Homo sapiens: one gene and its partners. The protein of the gene in region 7 interacts with the protein of the main gene of each other region in a pairwise test. Each region holds a gene or a part of one and is shown on either strand. Other genes may lie near its edges.

Evidence for each region.
Region 1: the proteins of EFHC2 (region 7) and CPNE2 interact in binary tests that used the Homo sapiens proteins (3 or more experiments, as listed by UniProt).
Region 2: the proteins of EFHC2 (region 7) and NCDN interact in binary tests that used the Homo sapiens proteins (3 or more experiments, as listed by UniProt).
Region 3: the proteins of EFHC2 (region 7) and ZFHX3 interact in binary tests that used the Homo sapiens proteins (3 or more experiments, as listed by UniProt).
Region 4: the proteins of EFHC2 (region 7) and CCDC102B interact in binary tests that used the Homo sapiens proteins (3 or more experiments, as listed by UniProt).
Region 5: the proteins of EFHC2 (region 7) and ZBTB16 interact in binary tests that used the Homo sapiens proteins (3 or more experiments, as listed by UniProt).
Region 6: the proteins of EFHC2 (region 7) and LONRF1 interact in binary tests that used the Homo sapiens proteins (3 or more experiments, as listed by UniProt).

Annotation. Positions count from the first base shown.
Region 1 is NC_000016.10:57,109,583-57,113,082, reverse strand, and holds part of CPNE2 (copine-2), read right to left. Parts: intron 2,376-3,500; 5' UTR 2,341-2,375; coding exon 2,161-2,340; intron 1-2,160.
Region 2 is NC_000001.11:35,564,039-35,567,279, reverse strand, and holds the end of NCDN (neurochondrin), read right to left. Parts: intron 2,054-3,241; coding exon 1,617-2,053; 3' UTR 501-1,616; downstream 1-500. UniProt on the Homo sapiens protein: Probably involved in signal transduction in the nervous system, via increasing cell surface localization of GRM5/mGluR5 and positively regulating its signaling. Required for the spatial learning process.
Region 3 is NC_000016.10:72,954,129-72,957,628, forward strand, and holds part of ZFHX3 (zinc finger homeobox protein 3), read right to left. Parts: coding exon 3,299-3,500; intron 3,275-3,298; exon of another isoform or gene 3,119-3,274; coding exon of another isoform or gene 3,052-3,118; intron 1-3,051.
Region 4 is NC_000018.10:68,801,080-68,804,579, reverse strand, and holds part of CCDC102B (coiled-coil domain-containing protein 102B), read right to left. Parts: intron 1-3,500. UniProt on the Homo sapiens protein: During interphase, forms fibers at the proximal ends of centrioles to maintain centrosome cohesion. During mitosis, dissociates from the centrosome following phosphorylation to allow centrosome separation. Contributes to CROCC/rootletin filament formation.
Region 5 is NC_000011.10:114,237,711-114,241,210, reverse strand, and holds part of ZBTB16 (zinc finger and BTB domain-containing protein 16), read right to left. Parts: intron 1-3,500. UniProt on the Homo sapiens protein: Acts as a transcriptional repressor. Transcriptional repression may be mediated through recruitment of histone deacetylases to target promoters. May play a role in myeloid maturation and in the development and/or maintenance of other differentiated tissues.
Region 6 is NC_000008.11:12,735,027-12,738,526, forward strand, and holds part of LONRF1 (LON peptidase N-terminal domain and RING finger protein 1), read right to left. Parts: intron 3,119-3,500; coding exon 2,969-3,118; intron 2,335-2,968; coding exon of another isoform or gene 2,246-2,334; intron 2,115-2,245; coding exon 1,874-2,114; intron 1,772-1,873; coding exon 1,675-1,771; intron 375-1,674; coding exon 260-374; intron 1-259.
Region 7 is NC_000023.11:44,149,523-44,151,672, reverse strand, and holds part of EFHC2 (EF-hand domain-containing family member C2), read left to right. Parts: intron 1-2,150. UniProt on the Homo sapiens protein: Microtubule inner protein (MIP) part of the dynein-decorated doublet microtubules (DMTs) in cilia axoneme, which is required for motile cilia beating.

The DNA of each region.
Region 1 (3,500 bases), on a different chromosome or scaffold from region 7:
CTTGTGGAGCAGGGCCGAGATTTGAAACCGAGGTCTGACTCTGCTACCCACACTCTTAATTCTTTGGCCCTGGCTCCCTACCCAGGTGCCAGGGTAAGAGCTCAGGCCCTGCCCCTGCCTGGGTAAGAGATGGAGGACAAGGCCCTTTCCCCATCTGGGCCTCCGTTTCCACCTCTGTAAAGGGAAAGGATTTGACTACTTGCGGTTTTCACTTTTTATTTTGGGAAAACCCTTTTTCAAACCATGTTTTACATGGAAACTGAGAGAGGAAACAGAAAGCAGGGAGGATTCTTCGGGGGAGGTGGGGTCAGGGACTCCCCACGGGAGCGCGGGGAGATATTTGTATCTTGTATAGAATCCTGACACTGTGCAGCCCAACACCCCACCTACTGTGGATACCAAAGCCTGGCTGAGGACAGGGCCTGGTACTGTGGGTCAGTGGTGGCACTGGGACAGGAAACCCGCCTCCTGGCCTCTGGATGCTGAGGCCCCAAACCGCGGAGTCTGGGTGACAGTCTATTTTGGGGCCCAGGCTGTGTTGACTTTTCCTCCCACCCAGTCCATTTCCAAGGGCTGGAGCAGCAGGGACGGAGGAGGTCTTGGCCCTGGGCTATTTTTAGCCAGGGTGGCTGGCCTGGGTGGGGGCAGAGGTTGTCAGGGAGGGTGGGGGATTGTGCTATGAGTCAGGGGGATACCACTCCCTCGGGGCACTCAAGGGTTCTAGAGACCTGGTGGAAGGGAACTGTGCCCCCAGACATGCCTCTCACAGGCTTGTGGCTCCCCCAGGAGTCCTCAGCTGGCCCCATGTCCCACCTCCCACTTACAGTTGTACCATCAACAAGCTGGGTGACACAAAAAAGTCCCTACCCACTCTGGGGCCCCTGTTTCCCCCTCTGTAAAGTGGGTCAACAATCCCACACCGTTTTCTTGGCATCACAAGAAGGAGCCAACATCCATGGGAACTCTTTGTAAACCACAGTATGTTCAGGTGAACTCCCACCGTGGCCTAGTTAAATATCCATTAAAAAATACACACATATTTTGGGAAATATACATGCATATAAAGCCATCTGGAAGGCTGGATACCAAACGGTTAACAGTGGTTCTCTATGACAGGTGGGTTCCTAACAATTTTGATTTTCTCCTTTAGGTTTATCTGGATTCTCTACATTTACTCCAATAGTTTCCTTTTGCAAAAGCAAAGCAAGTTTTAAAACCTGAAGGTCTGAACAGCTTAGGTTTCTCAACATCCTTCCTCAAGCTGCAACTCTTTCCAACCTTCAAGCCAAAGTCTTCCAGCTCAGAAGTCCTTGCCTGGGGCACCATTAATATCCCCAGATCTGGGGCCTTCCAAGGGAGTCAGCAGAAAAAAAATATATAATAATTTCACAGATGAGGAGACAGGTTCAGAAAGGGACAGCTACTTGCTTAAGGCCACACAGCAGGGAGTAGCATCACTGGGCCTTGGACCAGCTCCCAAAGCCTGAGCTCACTGTTTCTCTGTTTCTTACTGACCATGTGTTCATTTAGAAAGGTTATTTAAAAGCGGAAGCAAACATTTCATAAAACTATAAAATGTTAACTATATATAACAATTTATAACAAGATGGGGCGTGGTGGTTCATGCCTGTAATCCCAGCACTTTGGGAAGTGGAGGCAGGTGGATTGCTTGAGGTCAGGAGTTCAGGACCAGCCTCGCCAACATGGCGAAAACCCATGTCTCTACTAAAAATACAAAAATTAGCTGGGCGTGGGGTGCACACCTGTAGCCCCAGCTAATCGGGAGGCTGAGGCAGGAGAATTGCTTGAGCCTGGGAGGCAGAGGTTGCAGTGAGCTGAGATCTCACCACTGCACTCCAGCCTGGGGGACAGAGAGATTCCGTCTCAAAAAAAAAAAAAAGATATCAAATAATCACTATAAATCATATAAATATAAATCTATAGATTTTAATTGTAATAATTTAAACACAAAGTAATATTTTAAATATATTTAAAATAAAATTTCATTTTAAGAGTAACAATTTACCAAGTAATCCCCTGCCACCAGCCCACACTCCAACTACTTCCATCAGACATCCTGGATCCCAGTCCTGGGAGACTCCCCCTCCCCAGCAGCCTAGCCACCCCCTTACCCACCGCAGACACACGGAAGAGCCTCACCTCGATCCATCTGCCATTGTTCTCTGTAAAGAGGACACAGAAGGGGTCGGACTTGGAGGTAACATCCCGGTCCAGTAGGTTCTGGCCACTCACTGACAGCTCCACCTTGCACACGCAATACTGGGGGCCCATGGGGGCTGCCCCCGCTGCTGGGGCACCCCCACTGGGTATGTGGGCCATGGGAGCCGGTGGCGGTGGCAGGAGTTCCTGGCAGTCTAGGGGAACAGAAGTGAGGGTCAGAGAGTGGACAGACACCTGCTATGCTGCCCCACCATAGGGAGGCATTACCACCTGGCCTTTAAGAGGTGAGTGGAGAGATGGAAGGCAAATTGAGGCGGGTTGTCAAATAACATAGGCAAAGGTTTGAAGAAAGAAGAATGCAAGGAAATGCATGAAAAGGGAGTCTCAGCTGAGCGCAGTGGCTCACGCCTATAATCTCAGCACTTGGGGAGGTCAAGTGCCTGGAAGCCCGGAGTTCAAGACCAGCCTGGCAACAAGGAGGATCCTGTCTCTGCAAAAAATATTTAAAAATCAGCTAGACATGGTGGTGCGTGCCTGTGGTCCCAGCTACTTGGGAGGCTGAGGCAGGAGGATTGCTTGAGGCCAGTAGTTCAAGGTTGCAGTGAGCCGTGATTGCACGTCTCTGCACTCCAGCCTAGGCGACAGAATGATACCATCTCAAAAAAAAAAAAAAAAAAGAAAAGAAAAGAAAAAAGAGTCTCTGTCTCTGGTAGCTGTGTTAAATTTGTCTTTGAAGTTTTTCTCTGCTGTGGTCAGTCTTCACCTGTAAGGATGCACAGCTCCTTGTGTGTTGCTCCGTCACATGAGCAACAAATCACAGTGGACATGGGTGTCTCAGATACTAATTGTGCCAGGAAAACCTGGGCTTCTCCTGAGCAACTAGCATGTTGGCATCTTGTGGCCACAGTGGAGCTGACAACTGCTCAGGCTTCTCTCCTTCCTACTTTGGCCACTAGGAAGCTCACTTCTGGTAACGTCAGAGGCGTTTAAACCAGAGCAACTCCATCTTGAATAGGAACTGGGTAAAATAAGGCTGAAACCTACTGGGCTGCATTCCTAGATGGTTAGGCATTCTGGGTCACAGGATGAGATAGGAGGTCAGCACAAGATACAGGGCATAAAGACCTTGCTGATAAAACAGGCTGCAGTAAAGAAGCCAGCACCAAAACCAAGACGGCCATGAGAGTGACCTCTGGTCGTCCTCACTGCTACACTTCCACCAGGGCCATGACAGTTTACAAATGCCATGGCAACATCAGGAAGTGACCCTATATGGTCTAAAAAGGGGAGGCATGAATAATCTGCCACTTGTTTAGTAT
Region 2 (3,241 bases), on a different chromosome or scaffold from region 7:
GCATGTTTTGTTGGATCAGTAGTTATTTAATTAAAGATAGTTACTGACATTCAAAAGTTGGGTTTCACATACAAATTAGGATTCCTGACTTCTTTAAAAATGGGAGGATATGGCAGGGCCACTTGGCAGCAACCCAGTGACATGGGGGCGGGGGTGCAGTGTTTCATCTGTACTTGAGAGCACCAGAGCCCCCACAAGGCCTGGCCACATCAACATGAGTTTGGCAATCTGCTGTACAAGTGAAAGATGTGGGCTGGGGAGTCGGATGGCCTGTGTGGAGTCCTGGCTCTGGCACTGACTAGCGGCAACACCTTGAGCCAATCACTTATCCATGCCAAAGTTGCTTTGTCTGTAAAATCAGAACCCTTCAGAGGATTCTTGGAAGGGCTGAATGAGGTCTCATGATGTGTTTAGCAGGGCATGTGTTCAGCACCTGGTAGCTGTGAACTGATGGAGCCTGGAAGGGAGAGAGCAGGTGCAGGGCAGACCACGCAGGAGGCTTCTCGTCACCAATGAACATTTATTGAGTGTCCACATGTGCACAGCTTTGAACTTGGCGATCACAGAACGCACTGGGGGAGGGAAGCAAGGGATCAAGAGTGTGTGTGTGTGTGTGTGTGTGTGTGTGTGTGTGTGTGTGTGTGTGTGTGGTCCCCCTGGGTTTATAAGAAAGGTAGTCCCTGCTGGAGCCGCCAGTCGCGTCTCTGCAGAGAGGAGTCATAGCAGGGGTGGGAGTTAAAGCCAGGCACCACGGTGGCAGTGGAGTGTAATCACTGGGGAAACATGCGGATTCTGGGGAAGTGTCCCTCCTGTTCCTGGCTCCAGCCAGGCCAGATGGCACCAGGGGGACAGGAATCAGATGCTCAGGTGTCCAAGCAGGGATAAGGACAGGCAAAATAAATAACCCCCCAACCCCCATCGTCACTCTGCTGCAACACGACACAAAGGTTTAAAGATCTGGGCCCAAAGACTCTGGGTCCCTTCAAGCAAGCTCAGGTGGAAGGAGGTTTCCCCACCCCCCACCAGGCCTGTCTGCCCCAGGTTGCCCTAGGATGGAGGCAGTTCAGACCCTGGGTCACTGAAGCTGATAGGAAGAACTGCGATATCAATGGCCTAAGCCTGCTGTCTGCCCAAGGGAGCCAAGGGCAAGAGCCAAAGGGCCAATTTAAAGGACGTGGACCTGGGGGGCCAGAGGAGGCACCACAGCCGAGGGGAGCCCACGCCCTGGCCGGCAGGGCACATGGGCTGAGGCAGTCTGCTCCTGCCAGCCCTGTCTTACCCTGGAGCCTCCCTCCTGCAGGGGAGCCAGACATCGGGCACAATGACACCTAGTGCCCCCCTCCCTGGGGGCTGCTCCAACCTTCCCCGGCCTGGCGGGGACAACCACGTTGATTTCCAAGCCGATCCCTGCCCCCATGGGGGCCTGAGGGGCGGAACGCAGTTCCTTACACTTGAGGGGTGGGCACCATGCCCTTGCCCTCAGAAAAGCCAGAAAGCTGGGGTGTTTTGGGGAGGAAGTCTGGGGAGGGGGGGGCCAGATTGGGGGCTTCAGGGAAGATGCCTCCTCCCTCCTTCCCTCTCTGCCCGCCCCTGGGTCTGTCCCCGGTGGACACCCCTCAGGGCTCTGACAGGCACTGCTCCAAGGCAGCCATGCGGTAGTGGCTGGCCGTCTCCTCGCCCGCCTGCAGCCTCATGGCCTCCCGGCACAGCCGGTTGGCCCGCGCCAGCTCCACCAGGACACCCTGATAGGCGGCCACCATCTCGGGCTTGACAGAGTTGGGGCTGACACTGCCTAGCAGCTGGAGCAGCTCCTGCGGCCAGCGGGAGCGCAGGGCAGCGGGGGCCAGCCAGGGCAGCAGAGGCACACAGCCGGTGAAGGCCTGCATGCCCAGGAACCAGAGCTCCTGCAGGTCGGCCCAGATGCCCTCATACTCAGGGGACAGGGCTAGCACTGCCTGGTCTGAGCCCGGGGTGGCCCGCGCCACGTGGGACTGTGATAGGAAGAGGATGGCAGCTGCGAAGAACCCTCGGGATGCTGGTGTTCCCTGAAGAGCTGCAAGGTAACGGAAGGAGTGGGGCATGAATCGGACAGGCCAGCTGCTGTGTCAGACCCTTCCCTAGTCCTCTGTGTAGACACATGCAGGAGCCAGGGCACAGCCTGGAATCAGACTGCCTGCGTTGAAACCCTGCCTTAGATGCTCACTGTGTGACCTTGGGTAATTAACTTTTCTGGGTCTGTTTCTTTACTTGTAAAATGGGCCAATAGTGCTCATCTTAGAAATTTGTTGTGAGAATTAAATGTGATCATCTTGGTACACTCAACCACCAAGACCTCTACCGGCACTGGAGGTGGGGGTGAGTCACAGGGTCAGATGGGAGAGAGAACCCCTCAGGGTTCTGGACACAGAGCTCAGACACAGGTTAAGGGAGTTGCACCATTTGATCCTTGGGCCAGAAGAGGGCGCCAGAGAGGAACATAAGCAAGTGACCCTGCTTTGCTTACTGGCTGTTCAAGGGGTGACCCTCACACTGCAGGTGCTCTCCAGGAAGCTGTCAACCTAACCTGGTGGTATTTGAGGGTGAGCCAGAACTGGGACCATGAAATTGGGGGCTGCAGAGATGCAGCCTGGGACTGAGAGTGCAGAGTGGGCTCCTGGTGTACAGGGATGTGCACCCCTTCCCATGACGGGGTACCCTGCTGGGAACCCCTCAAAAGGAACACAGAGGCAGTGGAAGGTACGGGCATGTTACGCCCTGTTCCCAGGCATCTGCTCAGCTCCTCCAACCTGACAGATGGGGCACAGGGAACAGGCAGGGACAGAGGGACCCAAGCAGACACCCACAGCCAAAGAGGGAGACACGGAGGGCTGCCAGGGGCTGGAGGGGACGTCCCTCCCCCTGCAAACAGCCAGAGTGAGGCAGAGCTAGGGAGAAGGTGTGCATAGAGGGACACCAAGTGCTGAAGGCTGTCACTGATGGGGGTGAGGTACCGAGCAGAGCAGAGAAAAACATCAATGGAAGGAAGTCAGGTTTCTGACTCAAGGCCTGGGTGGGGGCGGCTCCACCTTGAAAACACTGGATTCAGATTCCTCTGGCTGCCAGGGATTCCAGGTGCCTATGCCTGTGCCTGTGAGCAGGTCTGTACTTAACACCCACCAGACTTTGCCTTAAAAGTCTTCAGAAGAAAGAGAATGTTAGCATTTTGGGAAGAACGGTGGGGGTAGGGGATGGAGATACACTG
Region 3 (3,500 bases), on a different chromosome or scaffold from region 7:
GGAGGCCAAGGTGGGCAGATCACCTGAGGTCAGGAGTTCAAGACCAGCCTGGCCAATGTGGTGAAATCCTGTCTCTACTGAACACACAAAAATTAGCTAGGCATGGTGGCGCATGCCTGTAATCCCAGCTACTCGGAAGGCAGAGGCAGAAGAATTGCTTGAACCCGGGAGGCAGGGGCTGCAGTGAGCCGAGACTGCGCTATTGCACTCCAGCCTGGGCGACAAGAGTGAAACTCCATCTCAAAAAAAAGAAATGAAAAAAAGAACTTGGCAGGTCCTTAGTCTTGAGCCACACTGGATACGTGGTCTTGGAGCAGGTCCCCATCTCTGGGTATGCACCTAACTCTAACACTGGAACTGACACCTTGACACGTGAGCCCACCCATCAGCACATCCTCAGGAAGGTGCATGGATTCAAAGGCACACTCTGGAATGAAAGGGAGACGAAGGGAGCTGCTAAACCTTGTGCAGGTGTCCAGGGGCTGGCTGGCTACTTGGGAAACACACAGCCACCCCGACAAGCAACCCCTTTCTTGGTGCTATGCTAAACTTCAGAGTCGAAAGGAAGGTTTGGGAGGATGTTCACAAGGCCTCAAATCTAATGTGCTGTCTACAAAGAGCAGCAGATCCGACTGTACTAGGCGAAGGAGCCCCAAGCCTTTCCTCAAAGGCTTCTGAAAAGAAGCAACCCCACAATCAGTGTCTGTTTGATGATACTAAAGAGGGCTCTGCCAAGGGAAGTATGAAAACAATCACCTTGTAAAGAGGAGTGTATTTCACAAAAACATTTTTCTCCCTGCAGAACTCAGTCACATCTAATAACACCTACAGCCATCTTATAAATGGACCATGGGGAAAAAAAACCAGTACAGCCACAGCTAGAACTGAAAGTTATGGCTGTTTTTATTTGCATAAGTTGGTTTCTCCTACTGAGGTCATACAACTCAAATTCCAAGTCTTTTGGACACTTCCTATGGCCCCCACACCCACTCGAGCTTCTGGCATAAAGGATTTGTGGCTCTCACACCTTCTCAGCAGTTTTCGCGGCCCAAGGAAGGCACAGGTTTCCAGGGACTCCCCGTGGCCGACAAGTAGTGACACTGGAAATTCAAGAGCCCTTTGTGACTGAGCTGGATAAATCCTTTGGGAGGAAGAGCTCCAGTCTAAGAAATATGGTGTGGCCCTTCCATGTGTGTCTACAACACAGGGCTTCATTCTTCTGCTCCTTCTGAATCTGCCGCAATGCCCAGGACAGTGCATGATGCCCCAAAGACTCACAGACACTTGGTGTGAAAGCGAAATATTTCTCTACTTCTCAATACAAGCCTTAGTTACCTGTTCTTAAGGTAATTAAAAAGCCTCACTTTAGGCTGGGCACAGTGGCTCATGCCTGTAATCCCAGCACTTTGGGAGGCCAAGGCGGGCAGATCACCTGAGGTCAAGGGTTTGAGACCAGCCTGGCCAAGATGGTGAAGCCCCATCTCTACTAAAAACACAAAATTAGCCAGGCATGGTGGCGGGTGCCTGTAATCCCAGCTACTTGGGAGGCTCTGGCAGGAGAATCGCTTGAACACAGGAGGTGGATGTTGCAGTGAGCCGAGACGGCACCACTCACTCCAGCCTGGGTGACAGAGCGAGACTCTGTCTCAAAAAAAAAAAAAAAAAAACCCTCACTTTGACCCAACATGAACCTACCCACGTTCCCACGTTCTGTCTTCATTCCACCTCCGTTATGTTTGATTTGCTCCAAGATCTACCTCCCGAGATTCTATGACTCCTTCTAATTCCTACTGGCTTAAAGAAAACCTTAGAGTACTCACTCCCATCTCCTGGTGTGCATGGTTCACCCTGGTGACAAATAAGACGACCAGTGCTTGTGCATCCACAATTAGCCAGTTGGTTTCAAATACCCTCAAATCATTTGGTAATAAAGGATCAACAGGCAAATATTTCAAAATGGAAAATGAGATTAAAGTACTAAGGATTAAAAACTGAATACATAGCAAGAAAAACCAATGGAATGCTTTGAAATATAACTCATCGGCAACAATTAGCACTCAAACACCACACAAATAAACACTTGCCAACTGCTGAGGCCTGGCCCTGCAGTCATCTAAGCCATCCTGGAAAAAAAGTCCTCACTGACACTCTGTTGCCAAGAACAACCTATTCCCATGTCAATAATGGCATATTGCTTAATTCAGGCCATTGTCACTGGTCCCACGAAGTCCATTAGCAGCGTCACGGGATGGGACGCAGGCAGGATCCTGTTTGAAGCATACCGGGTGGAGGCACGAGTGGCCCAACTATCAGAAGGTTCTCATGAAACCCATCTGTAGATTGTTTTGGCAGCAGCAGCTATCCTCAAAGTGGCTGTGGTTCGTTCTACGTAAAAACTCAAAGTTTTTAGCACCCAAATCCTACACTCTTGGTCCTATTCTAGATATTGTAAGCCAATTGGTAAGACTGGGAGCCTGAACAGAGCCAAATCAGCTTCTCTAAAGCAGAGGTCATTCTTCCTGGCAGCGAAGGCTCCGCTAACCAGGATCTAACTGCTATTAAAAGTTAACTTTCCTTGATGGACAATTTTTACAACTTACTCATTTTTCATCTCTCACACCCCTCACAACAGTGCCACTGGGGAATTTAATTCCCAATTAATTTCCAACTATTCTAATCACCAAGTACTCATCAAAAATAAGCAAAAAAAAAAACATCTCTTTCATTGAGGTCCTCATAAATATACAGAGAACTTTGAGAAGTCTATCTGGATGGTTCCCTAGCTCGGCACAGAATCAGCCTTTAGTTATCTGAATAACGTACACTGTGGTTCCGAATTCCTATTATTAAGATGATTGTCTCTACTTAAATCATTGAGGTAACTGTCCCTAGTCCTCTTATTGAAATGATTGCCTCAGCTACAGTTTCCTGTAAGTTTCAGTAAATATTCGATGAAACCCCAAAGTTTTAGGTGATTATAGTGATTTTTCAAATTGAAAGAAGAGACAGAGAAAGAGAGAATGGGAACAGAAAACTAGAGGAAACACTCACATTTTAATCCTGGCCCCACGTAGCCAGAGTACAAGCATATCTCTTTTGAATGCATAAACTCTTCCATATGTACACACACAGTTCAAGGGATTCTTGAGAATACTTGATTGTAAGACACTCCAGTTTACACAAAAACCACTCGAGAAGACCAGAGTCAACTGAATCCACAGGACTATCTCACCCTATTCACCATTCTCCCTGGTTAAACTCCTATCATGAAAACAGACAAACACGTAGTCATCCTCACCTAGAGCAGGCGTCATGGCGGCCATGGGCCCGGCGGGATCCAGCTGGAATCCGCTCATCATGAACTGGGCGTCCGAGGCAGCACTGTCCATCTTCAGGTTGGGCAGGTTCATGTTCTGGGCCAGGTAGTATTGGTAGAGCTCGGCCTCGGCGGGTGAGGGCAGGCTGCCGAGGCCCAGGTGGCGGTTGTGTTGGATCTGGGT
Region 4 (3,500 bases), on a different chromosome or scaffold from region 7:
CTCCTCCTACTCCCTGGTAGCTGCCCCACATTCTGTCTCAGCTTCACACCTCTGACTGCAAGCGCTCCAACACTGAGACTTCAGGCTGGGGTAATTGCTCTGGGTGAAGGCATCCAGGCCTTTGACTTCAAATTCATTAATTTTCTGAAATTTCCTAACAGACATATCTCTGGCCTGAGATGTTCCTTTATCTCTGGGATCTCACGTGTCCAGCTGCCCACTTAACATCACTAAGGATATCTAATCAGCATCTCAGATTTCACATGTTCAAAAACAAACACTTGAACTCCCCTCACATCTACACCTGCTCCTCCACAGTGTTCCCTGTGTCAATAAATGCACATTTCACTCTTCTAGGTTTACAGACCAAACTTAGGGGTTACCCTTGATTCCTTTGTCTCTTCATTGCACATCATTGTTGGAAACTCCATCAGTTCTGGCAGGAAAATATGAAATACAGCCTATGCAGAATTACAAAAACTCCATCTCTAATATCTCCTTCAAACCACCCTGTCTCTTGCCTGGAATACTGTATGGTATCTGGCCTCCCCACTTCTACCTTTTCCCTACTCCAGTATGTTCTCCACAGCACAGCCGAGTGGATGCTTTGAACACTCAACTTATGTTACAATATTTCTAGGATCCCAACATTCAAATGACTTCCCATCAAACTCAGAATAAAGTGGTTGTAGTTTATGATGTTGTCATGATCTAAACATAAACCATCCCTGAACTCTTCATCAGGACCCATGATTTCCCGACCTGAGGCTCCTACAGTTGGGGTATGAAGAGCCCTTTTAAAAGTAAAATAATATTAGGTTGGTGACCATGTAATTGTGATTTTTCCCATTGAAAGTAATGGCAAAAAATGCAATTACTTTTGCACCACCCTAATATCTTGAAGCTTAAGCTGGATTTACTTCCTCTTAAAGTAGCTTCTGCCTGTGCCTCCCTGCCTCGCTCATTCCCAGCAGCTGCCGGCCATCTGGCCATTCCTTGAAGGGACATTCTTCTGACTTAAGACTTTAGCACATGTGATTTCCTTTATACTTCTCTTCTGCCAAGATTCCTCGTGGTTAAGTATCTTACATCCTTCACCCTAACAGAAGGGACATTCCCTGGTTATTTCAAGAGTGTGTAAATATTCTATTCCCTTTTAGCCTGAATGTTCTTTTTTTCTTCCAGTACTTATCATGACTTAATATATATTTATATACTATGTATGGATTCTACTGCTTTACCAGCTAGACTATATGCTTAATGTAAAGAAAGGGGTTTTACTTTTTATTCACATCTCTATTTCCATTGCTAGAACAGTGTCTGAGACATGGTAGACATTTATTACTAAATGGACAAATCTAAAACAGAGTGACTTAGAACTATTCCTTTTCTTCCAAAAGGCAAGCATTACAAGTTCCACTAAATAAGTCAGTCTTCTCTAAAGAAGGTGGCTTTTAGATATTAAACGCTTATAGGCTTTTAAAATTAATAAAGAAACAGTTTTAAGTGAGGTTAACCCCAATCACACCACTTTAATTGCTATCAGCAACTTCATTCTTCCAAGTACTTAAATAATTCACAAATACACCTATGATGATTATCTGTATATACAAAAGATGAAGATTTACATTTATTTGGCCAGAAATACTTTTGAAACAGCGTGGAAAGTGGATAGGATATTTGGGAGAACAAAGCCATGTATCCCTTTCAGAGATAAGAGGACCAAGGGGTTTCAAAAGAATCAGCAGATGGGAGGTGGAGTTTGTCTTCTGCACTATTTCTACTTCTGATATCGTTTTGGATAAAGATCTATGCTTCTCGAATATGTCATTTATATTAATTCAGATAAACATCCTGCTCAATAATATGGAAGAAACTTATAGCCACAGAGGAAACAATGACGGCCAACCATAGACAATGAATGGACCATGTGAGGTCCAGGACCAGAGCTTTGCATTCAGTACCTATGCTTAGGCCCCAGCCTTCTGTGAGAAGCCTGTATCTGAGATAGCCCTCCTAGTTCTAATCCATGAATACTGGAATTTCTCCCATTAATCTACATTATCAGGTCAAATTTATTTAGTCCTGATACCAAAAACATAAAATATAAAAACATATCAAAAACATAAAAGCCAGCAAGTAAATTCATATAGCATTAACACCTTTAGAGGGCACTTGTAGCACGACATAATTGCAACATCCATGTTTTTAATCCATGCAATCATAAATTCTATAACTTAAGTTTCATTATTACAAAAAGAATGAAGAAGCCTGGGCAGTATCAAAAATAGGATGGCAGGGACTCTACGTAGTTGCTTTGACCCAACTCATTCCTACCATTGACAATACCTGTAAAGTGATTTCCAAACAAAGATAGAACAAAGCTCACCTGAACCCTCAGACAATCCCTGAGATTATTCTAGCTCCAAATTAGGAACAGGTTATAACCAGAACCTTCTAGAATTATATGAAACACCAATGGATTATGGCACTTCCACATCTTTCTCTTTTTTCCTGTGCTACCAAATGTTATAATCCCACTGAGCACCTTATAATTTTCATGTTTTATTGTGAAATACATTTTCTTCTCATCCAGAGAAGAAACGCTTGTTCAAAACCCTTCATGTCAAAAGAAGATAGAAAATTCATGAATATAGGCTGACTAATAAGACTATTTGATCTTTTGCAGAGGTCATAAATGTAATCTTTCACCTAATGCCTTCACAATCCTAAATTCACTAAGGGAGGAAAGGAAAGATTGTATGAAAGACTCTCAAAACTATTTCCAAATGAAAATGAGTCTAAAGTTGCTACAGGTTTTTCTTCATGCAACTATTGCCTCTTTACCTGTGTTATATTTCCAAACGTTTACTGCAGCTTAGAAACATATGCTCCCGAGTCAGTGACTAAAAATCTCACTTTTATTTTTGGAAACTTTAATTCTACAAATTTGAAACAGACACTATGATAAGATATATTTATAAATTCTTCAGTGAGCATATGTTTTTTTTCTCAATATTAAGGACACCTTTTTCTTTAGCTACTAAAAAAATCCTTCTATCAAAATTTTAACATCAAATATTTTAATATATTTATGACACACAACAGCAATTCTTTTAGGAAATATCATTAAATATAAATCAACTTGGATAATATTTAAGTATATAATAATGTTAACAGTCCTTTGCAAAGCTATGACTACAATTAAATGGCCTTGAGCACAACCTCCAATACAATATCTAGTTTTCCATTTTACAATCAAGGTCTCAAGCTCACAATCTCCATTGAGCATCTACAATTAGTCAGGGCACTGAGGATGGAGCACTAGTTATACAAAATGTCTTCTATAGAATATATTCTTAGAATGCAACCTAAACCTGTACAAAAATAAAATCTCAAGGTCAGTGACCAAATCTTTGCATTTCAACTATCCTCATCTGTTTTCGTGTACGGCAAAAAGATACTCCTTCAGTAAAGCCTACTTAATGATAGTATGATTC
Region 5 (3,500 bases), on a different chromosome or scaffold from region 7:
CATGAATCTTAGGTCCATTCACTCAACAAGTATTATTTGATGCCTTCTACAAGCAAGGCTGTCTTTTTGGCACTGGGGATATAACCAAGGAAGAGCATGCAAAGTCCCTGCTCTCATGACCGACGTTACCCAGAACACCAGGTGAATGGCGGAATCCGGAAGATGGAATAGTGTCTGTGAACACTCTGGGCCAGGAGGAAACATGGCCGGTGGGAGGATCAGACAGAGGAATGGTGCAGTGCAGCTGGGGAAGAAGAGGAGGCTAAAGGGAAAGGCAAGGGCCAGGCCATGCAGGGTCTTGCAAACCACGTCAAGAGATTTAGTTCCATCCTAAACCCGATGGGCAACTGTCAAAGGATTGAAAGCTAGCGAGTGATGTGAGATTTTCATTTAATTCTAACTGGCTGTTCATCCCCAAAGTACCCCACACATACAGGCTGCCATTTTCTGTTTGTTACCAATCCCTTTCTGACACTGCTCTGGAGCCATGGCCGAAATTTCCAGCTGCAGCACCACAGGAGGAAGTATCTGACCTTGTGTCTGAGTCCTAACTGGCAGCTCAGTGCCCACCCTTTTGGGCTCTGTTTTCCTGAGCACAGGAGCTCCCCGGCAGGCCCATCTGTGTGTCTCTGTGCTGGTGCCTGGGCAATATCACCTGCACTTGGCCCCACACCGCTGTCCCCTGTGTGGGAAGGCACAAGCAGGAAACGTAAGTAGGCCTAGCATCTGTCAGTCCAGTCCAGAGTGGGTGGGGGGAGGGGGTAAAGCTTTGGCTGCTGGAAGCCATGGGCTGCTCAGCATGGAATCGGGAAGTGTCTGGTGGAAGGTAGGGGGAAGAGAAGGGATGGCACGAAGAACCTCCCTGCCTTCCTGGCCATCAATGGAGATAGCAAGTGAGAGGTCTGGTCCTCACCACCTCCGTCCCACTCATGGCTGGGTTAGGATGGACTAGTAGGCAGGCAAGGCCCACCTCTCACTGTCCCCCACACTTCTGTGCCCCTCACACCCACCCTGATATCCCTTCCCTTTGCAGACACTGAAGTCTAAGCACCTGGAGCCACGCCCCATCTCACCAGCAGTCAGGAAGGCTGAGCAGGGAAGGAGAAAAACAGCCAGCACAGGATTTTGCTCCTGGCCAACAAAAAGCAGGAAGGAAGGGGAGCGAATCTAGGCGTTATGCTAGGTACCTTATCTATGTTGTCAGTTCATTTAAAACTTGCAATCCTACAAGGCAGGCATTCTTATCCCCCTTTTTACCAGTGTAAAAGAGAGATTAAATAACTTGCCTAAGATCACACAGAAAGAGGCAGAGTTGGGATCTGAAAATATCTCGGTTTGTCTTTCAGAAACCACGGGGCTGGACTCAATGCTACCTCTGGAGCTGACTGCCCGCCTGTCTGGGCTTACCCTGGAAGAGGCCCAGTAAGGATGGTACAGAGGACTCCTGCCTCTAGTACAGCTCCAGCAATGGCTAGAGAACCCCTGGCCAGGAGTGGGCAGTAGCTGGGGCTGGGTCACAAGGCATAGCTCTCTGAGGCCTTCCAATCCCACTGGGAGCCACCAAGGTCTCTCAGAAATGCTGAGTAGTCTACTCAGCTTCACTTGCTGGAGGGAGACATAATGAGAGATGTATCTTTCTGGACAGAAGCAATGCCAAGAGTTGACAGTGAGTCTTCAATGTCCCTCCCTGCTTGGCCGACGTACACAGGAGGACAGTGCATCTGCAATGCGTTCTGTGCCCGGTGGCCCCCACTCCTTCAACTTGAGAGCCCCCAGCATCTACTCCCTCTCTGCCCTTAACCCCCACCCCACAGAGAGCCCAAATTAAGCCAGGTGTTCAAACAGCTACCTTAAATCAGTAGGGTTGAGTAGGCTTTGGAGGCCAGCCATGCCCTTTAAGAGCCAAGGCTTCTCCTTATGCATCCTCTGAGATCCCCGGCATGGAAGGAACCTGGGCAGAGGGAACATGAATGGCATTCCCAATAGGACATCTCAGCCTATACAGCCAGACCCACAGGTGCTCTGAGTGTCAATACACCCAGCAAGGCAGACTGCAGCACTCTGCCCCCTTGGCCTTTCCAAGGCCCCTCGATACTGCCCCACTATGCTGTCCCTACTTCTCAGGGTGGCCTGAACCCACTTCATGTCCATTCAGCCAACTCACTGAGCCACTACCAAGTACAGGCACTGTGCTAGGTGACCAGGGGCAGGCTAAGGCTGAGCAGAGAAACTGGGTCCCAGACTAGTGGGAGATGCTGAGTTAACAACCACCCAGAGGGTAAGGCAGGGCGACTCCAAGAGCTCCTGAGATTTTGAGTTAGGCTTTTAAAAGTTGAGTATCTGAGAAGCAAAGGACAAGAAGTTGGGACACATGTGCCAGGCTAAGGAGAGAGACACCACTGGCAAATGTCAGAGCAGATGGGGCCAAGGTCAGGCCCTGGGGATGGAGACAAGCTGGGAGGGTGATGGGAGTCAGATCAGAGGGCTGCATATGCCAGGCAGGACAGGTTGGACTTTATTCTACAGGCAATGCAGTGCCATGAAAGGACCGAGGGTTGCTATGATCCTAATGTCTGGGTCCCCCTCTGATTCCTTTTTTGAAATCCTAACCCCTAAGGTGATGGTATTAGGAAGTGGGGCCTGGGAGAGATAATTAGGTAATTAAAATGGAATGAGTGTCCTTGTAAAAGAGGGCCCAGAGAGCTAGCTAGCCCCTTCCACCACGTGAGGACACCGAGAAATCAGCAGTCTGCAACCAGGAGGAGGACCCTCACCAGAACCTGAACATGCTGGCACCCCAATCACAGACTTCCCAGCCTCCAGAGCTGTGAGAAATGCATGTCTGCTGTGTATAAGCCACCCAGTCCGTGGCAGTTTGTTATAGCAGCCTGACTTGACTAAGACGAGTGGTGCTAGCACGATCTGACCTGTGTTTGAAGCCAGTGACTCTGGGCACACATGGGGACCAACAGCAGCAGCAAGCGGTTAGAAGCAGCGAGAGGGCTGATGGGCCACTGGAGGAGGGTAGGGACCAGACCAGGGCAGAGGCTGCCAGGGCAAAGGGAGAGAGAAAATCCTAGAAAGGTGGGACAGCAAGGGAGGAGTGGCACGCAAAAAATCCCAGATGGCCAGTTCCACAACTGGCCAACAGGCTGGAAGTCATATGGTCACCAGCTGGAAAGGAAACACTATGATGTCCCTACAGTGGTCTCTCTCCCCTTCCTGGGACATTCCACAAGGTGCAGGGGTGCTCCTTGGTCACGTATCCACCAACCAAGGCTCCCAGGGGAAGAAAGGGGAGCCTCTGAGACTCAGCATCCACTTTCCCCATTTTTCTGCTTAGAAACTAACAGCTATGATGATAGAAAAGTATTTTTAAAAAAATGGAAAAGTGGGGGAGATGTGGATGAGACACAAGAAAAGCTATTGGTGCATGCGAGTTAAAAATCTAGAGACTAGATGTGAGTTATTAAACAATTTGCTGGCGTTTCAGCCTAGCT
Region 6 (3,500 bases), on a different chromosome or scaffold from region 7:
CCATACCCACTTTTGTTTAAAAAAAAAAAATTAAGTACAAGGGGGTTGGTCTTCAGCATCTGTCTTCTTTCTCCCCATCCTCTTCAACCTCACTTTTCTCCAACATTAGCATATGGGTAATAAAACATTATCCTTGTTAGTCACTCAGAATATAGAATGTAATTCTGAACGTGATCATCACTATTTCTATGGCTGAACAGAAATTAAACCATGCTGCCAAACTTAAGACCAACAAACAGACACATATACAAATATTTACCTCTTTTAAGCTTTCTTTGCAAAGAGGACAATATGGTGCATGATCTAAACAACGCTCAAGACAATTCTTACAGAACGAATGTCCGCAAGGGGTTGTTACTGGCTCAAAAAACAACCTGAAATCAACCAAGATACATGTTAGTTTTCACATTAAACTATCCACTGAAAAGCTTGTACTACTTTAGAACCATAACACTAATCTCTATTTAAAGGAGGAAGAAGGAGGGCCCAGCAGGCAGGAGAGGAGAGAAAGGGCAGTGATAAGTGTAACCATACCCTCCAGAATGTTTTAAAATTCTCCATCAACAAAGGCCTCCTGCCAAAGGCCTAGAGCCAAGGGCCTAGAGCTGTCCTGACTAACGCAACAGCCCCTGGACACTATGGCTACTAATCACTTGAAATGTGGCTAGTACAAGCTGATATGTGCACTGAATGTAAAATACATACCAGATTTCAAAGACTTTCTGCAAAATAAATAATGTAAAATACATCATTAAAAATCATTAGTTAGCTTTTGTATAGCCTTTAGATTCCCATTTTAATATCAACTTAAAAATGATTCCTTAATAGGTTTATAAGACCCTTATGATATAAAACTCATAAAAAGAATGACCTAATAAATAATGCAGTTGAATCCTAATGTTAGACTTAATACTAAATGTATTATTCAAACATTACAGAACAACTAGTTTTACTTATTTTCTGAAACATGATAGTTTTGAATTTGCTAGAAATAGATTTAGAGGTACTTTAGGGACTGTTTAGTATAATCCCCTCACTTCACAGATGAAGAAACCAAGGCTCAGAATTAAGACTTGCTCAGGAATGTAACTGCTACCAGCCTAGTGTGACCAGCACTAGGCCTCCTGACCCCGTATGAATCTTTTGATCCTACACAATTCATGTAAATGAGAAATGTTATTTCAAAACATTTAGTCTTTTAGAATTATAGCATTCTGAATAATGGAAATCCTTATCCTTATGTTACTTTAAAAAGACTTTATGGTTAATATACATTAATAAGATAGGATCATATACATAAAATACTAATTAGAATTCATACCCAAATTTAAAACCATGGAGATAGGTAAGTTTCAAAAATAATATCATCTATAACTTTCTTAGTACTTTACAATTTCCCAGATTCCTTTTATACTGAAGCCATGTGATTCTCACAACAATGAGATGTAGGCCATGCAAAGCTTGATCCCACTTTCTAAATTAGGAAACCTGAGGTTCAGAGATTCAGTTATTTGCCCAAGGCATGAAAGGTAAACCCAGGACTAAAATTCATGTCTTTTGATTTTTATTCCAGCATTGTGTTACTTTACATTGTCTATTATTACCTTTATCTACACGGTATTTTATGTATACTAACATAAAATATTCATCTTCTATAAAGTTTTATATGCTTACCTCATGCAGAGAGAACACTCGAAATCTGAGACATCGATTAATTCTTCTGGAATATCACCATAAGCTAAGGAAAACATACAGACTTCATTGGGAGTTTCTATTAAAACAAAGACATGGGGTTTTCTTCCTTAGGAAAAACTTTAAAGACTATTCTGACTAAATAAATTTATTTTATATAAGTGTAGAGCAAAATTTTTACCTCCTTGTTTTTTCAGCTTATTTCTTCCATCTTCATTTACAATCACATCCTGTTCTAAAAGAGACAACTTTCTTTTCAGCAGAACACCTTTTTCTTGAACTGACAGAACAGGTTCTGAGGACACTCTTTTTAAACAGTCCTCTCTGGCAGGCATTTCTGTTGAATTTATAGACTGTGCTGACTGAGCACGGTTTAAGCTTCCTTTGACAGGCTCTGAAGTGACCTCTGGTATTTCTTCACTCTACAAAAATACAATAAACAAAGGTAACTGTATTTCTTTACTATCCTTTATTCCTCTCACCAAGAATCAAACTGAAATGAAATTTCAATGCCTTATAATGCTCATTTTAATGTTCATTTAATAGCACTAACTTGATTCCAACACTGTGACAAGTAAATGATTTTTGCCAGCACAGTTGGCCCTCCGTATCCACAGGCTCTGCATCCGTGGGTTCATCCAACTGGGGATAGAAAATATTCTAAAAAAAAGCCTGAACATATATCGACTTTTTTCTTGTCATTATTCCCTAGACAATACAGTATAACAACTATTTACATAGTATTTACATTGTATTAGGTATTATAAGTAACCTAGAGATGATTTAAGTATACAGGAGGATGTGCATAAGTTATATGCAAATACTGTGCCATTTTATTAATATATCAGGGACTTGAGCATCCTTGGATTTGCTATCTGTGAGAGGTCCTGGAACCAATCTCCCACAGATACAAGGGATGACTGTACTTACACAGCCCTAGAAATCAAGGTGACTTATGTTATAATGAGGTTTAAAAGTAGTTATGCTATAACACAGCTGTTACTACCCTGAGGAAACATAAATGCAATGTTCTATACATATTTTTAAAGAACTAAAAGTTTTCTTTCACGGGACCTAAAATTGTGATTCATTAGCAAATATTTTACATAAAAGATTTTAGTGTAAAGTAAAGGCTATGGAAAAAATTCTACTATGATAACTAACCAGGTTAAAAGTACTTAAGTAGGTGCTAGTACTTGAAACTAGGAAAGTGAAGCTCTTAACTCGTAAAGAAATGGATACGCTAAACTCATGATAACCTTGTCTCACCCCGTACCTGCTTTGGGCTAGGTTCATTGAGAGACTGAGACTCTTCCATCACTGAATGAAAATCAAAAGGTCTGTTTTTAGTACATGGTAATGAACTCCAGGAAGATTCCTTCAGGCCTTCTTTTAAGTTTTCAGGTAATAATAAATCACATAAAATCTGTAAGAGAAATATTAAAAGTAGTAGAAAATATAAAATATTTGGTTAAGGATAATTTTGTATAAATTTACCTAATAAAGAATATGTAGAAAGTTTGTAGCAGACATTTTTTTAATGAGCAGGAGGGGAACAAGGTAAGCAACACTGTAAGTTCAAAAGTCTTGCAAAATTAGGTGTGCCTCATGGGGTCAAATCACCCGCAAACAAATGATTCAAAACTTTGAAAGGAAAGCATGGGAGTAGTAAGACTCAGGATAAAGGCTGATCTTTCAACACAAAGACTATAAAAAGATCTTAAAAGACATATTAAATATTTATCTCTGAATCTTAGTGAGCCCTATGCTATCAAAATAGTTCATGGTTCACCTCAATGTATATTTAC
Region 7 (2,150 bases):
TGCAGATATAATTAATTAAAATGAAGTTATGCTGGATTAGAGTGGACCCTAAATGCATTGATTGGTGACTTTATAAGAAAGCTGCGTGAAGACATATTGGTATACACAGAGAACACCATGTGAAGTTGGAGGCAGACGTTGGAGTGATGTGCTTACAAGCCAAGGAATGACTGCCAGCCACCACCAGAAGCCAGGAGAGAGGCATGGAATAAATTCTTCCTTAGAGCCTCCAGAAAGATCCAACGCTGCCAACACCTTGGTTTTGGACTTCTGGCCTTCTGAACTGTGAAAGAATAAGTTTCTGTTGCTTTAAGCCACTTACTTTGTGGTACTTTGTTACGGCAGCCCCAGGAAACTAATAACAGACACTGTCAACTATTACTGAATTTAGAATTCTTAGAACCATCCTTACCTGTATTAGTTTCCTAGTGATGCCCTCACAAAGTACCACAGACTGAGTTGCTTAAAACAATAGAAATTTATTCTTCCACAGTTCTGGAGGCTAGCAGTTCAAAATCTAGGTGTCAGCAGGGCCATACTTTCTCTGAAACCTGTGTGGGAATCCTTCCCTGCCTCTTCCTAGACTTTGATGGTTTTCTGGCAATCTTTGGCGTTCCTTGGTTTGCAGCTGCAAACCTCTAATCTCTGCCTCTATGGTCACCTGGTGTTCCCCCTGTGTGTCTCTGTCTTTACCTGGCTGTCTTTTTATAGGGAGGCCAGTCATATTGGATTAGGGGCCCACCCTACTCCGGTATGATCTCATTTTGCTCATCTTAATTTACCTAATTACATCTGCAAAAACCCTATTTCCAAACAAGGTCACATTCTGAGGTACTAGGGATTAGGACTTCACATAACTCTTTTGCATGAGGACACAACTCAACCCATAGCACTACACCTTTCTTTTGTCACCATTTCAAGTTGATCCCCTTCTAGCTATTTCATGTTCTCCTGCAGCAGCATCTCTCAGAGTAGCTCCTGTCCTCCATGCCCGCTTCAGCCACCCTGGTTATGGCACAGTCATTTTTCTGCGGTATTATAGTACTCACCTCCAGATTGATTTTCTTACTTCATGTCATTCTCTGTACATCCAGCAAGTTAGCTAATCAGTTTCTAATCAGATTTCTGTCATTTCCCTGGCCAAGACCTACCAGTGACTTCCCCTAACCACAGCCTCAAGTATAAACTAGCACAGAAGGCCAGAAGTTTGGCCCCAGCTTCTCCTTCTAACCATCTCTCTTGCCACTTTGCACCATGTGCCGCAAACCACACTGGGCTACTCACCCTTTCTTGAAAATAGATTTTAGATCTCCAGGCCTTTGCTTACGCTGGTCCCTATGCCTGGAATACCCTTCACAACCCTAAACCCTCTGCTGAACTGTTTTTCATCCCATAAGGTGCAACTGAATCACCACTTATTCAGCTTGCTTCCAAAATTCCATCACATCAAATTATTGAGCCTTTACCTATGTTTCTGTGACACCTTGTGATTCTGGATACTAATGTAACACTAGTAAAGATATAGAACCTCTTATATACAACAATTAACCTTGACAGTCATATTTTAACCTTGAAAGTAGAAATATAAGCAACCATATGTATGAACTTTGCCTCCTGTTGATATTAATTAACCATTGAGGCATATGCAAAAAGTTTGTGTGTGTGTATATACACGTATTTATGTATTATATAAAATGTGCATCTGTGTGTGTATATGTGTACACACACACACACAAATAAAGTGGCTTATCTGCAAGATCATACTGTGAGTGATCCAGTGTTCTTTTCATTGTTTACTGAAGAAACAGTAACCAATCAGCCAGTATAGATACCAGTTTGTATTTTAAAAATTGGGTTCTTTAGGCAGCAGTTCACGTCTGTAATTCCAGCACTTTGGGAGGCTGAGGTGGACATATAACTTGAAGCCGGGAGTTTGAGACCAGACCAGTCCGGCCTATATGGCGAAACCCGTCTCCTAGAAATACAAAAATTAGCCGGGCATGGTGGCATGTGCCTGTAATCCCAGCTACTCGGGAGGCTGAGGCATGAGAATCACTTGAACCCGGGAGTTGGAGGTTGCAGTGAGCAGAGATTGTGCCAGTGTACTCCAGCCTGGGCAACAAAGTGATACCCTGTCTTTAAAAAAAATA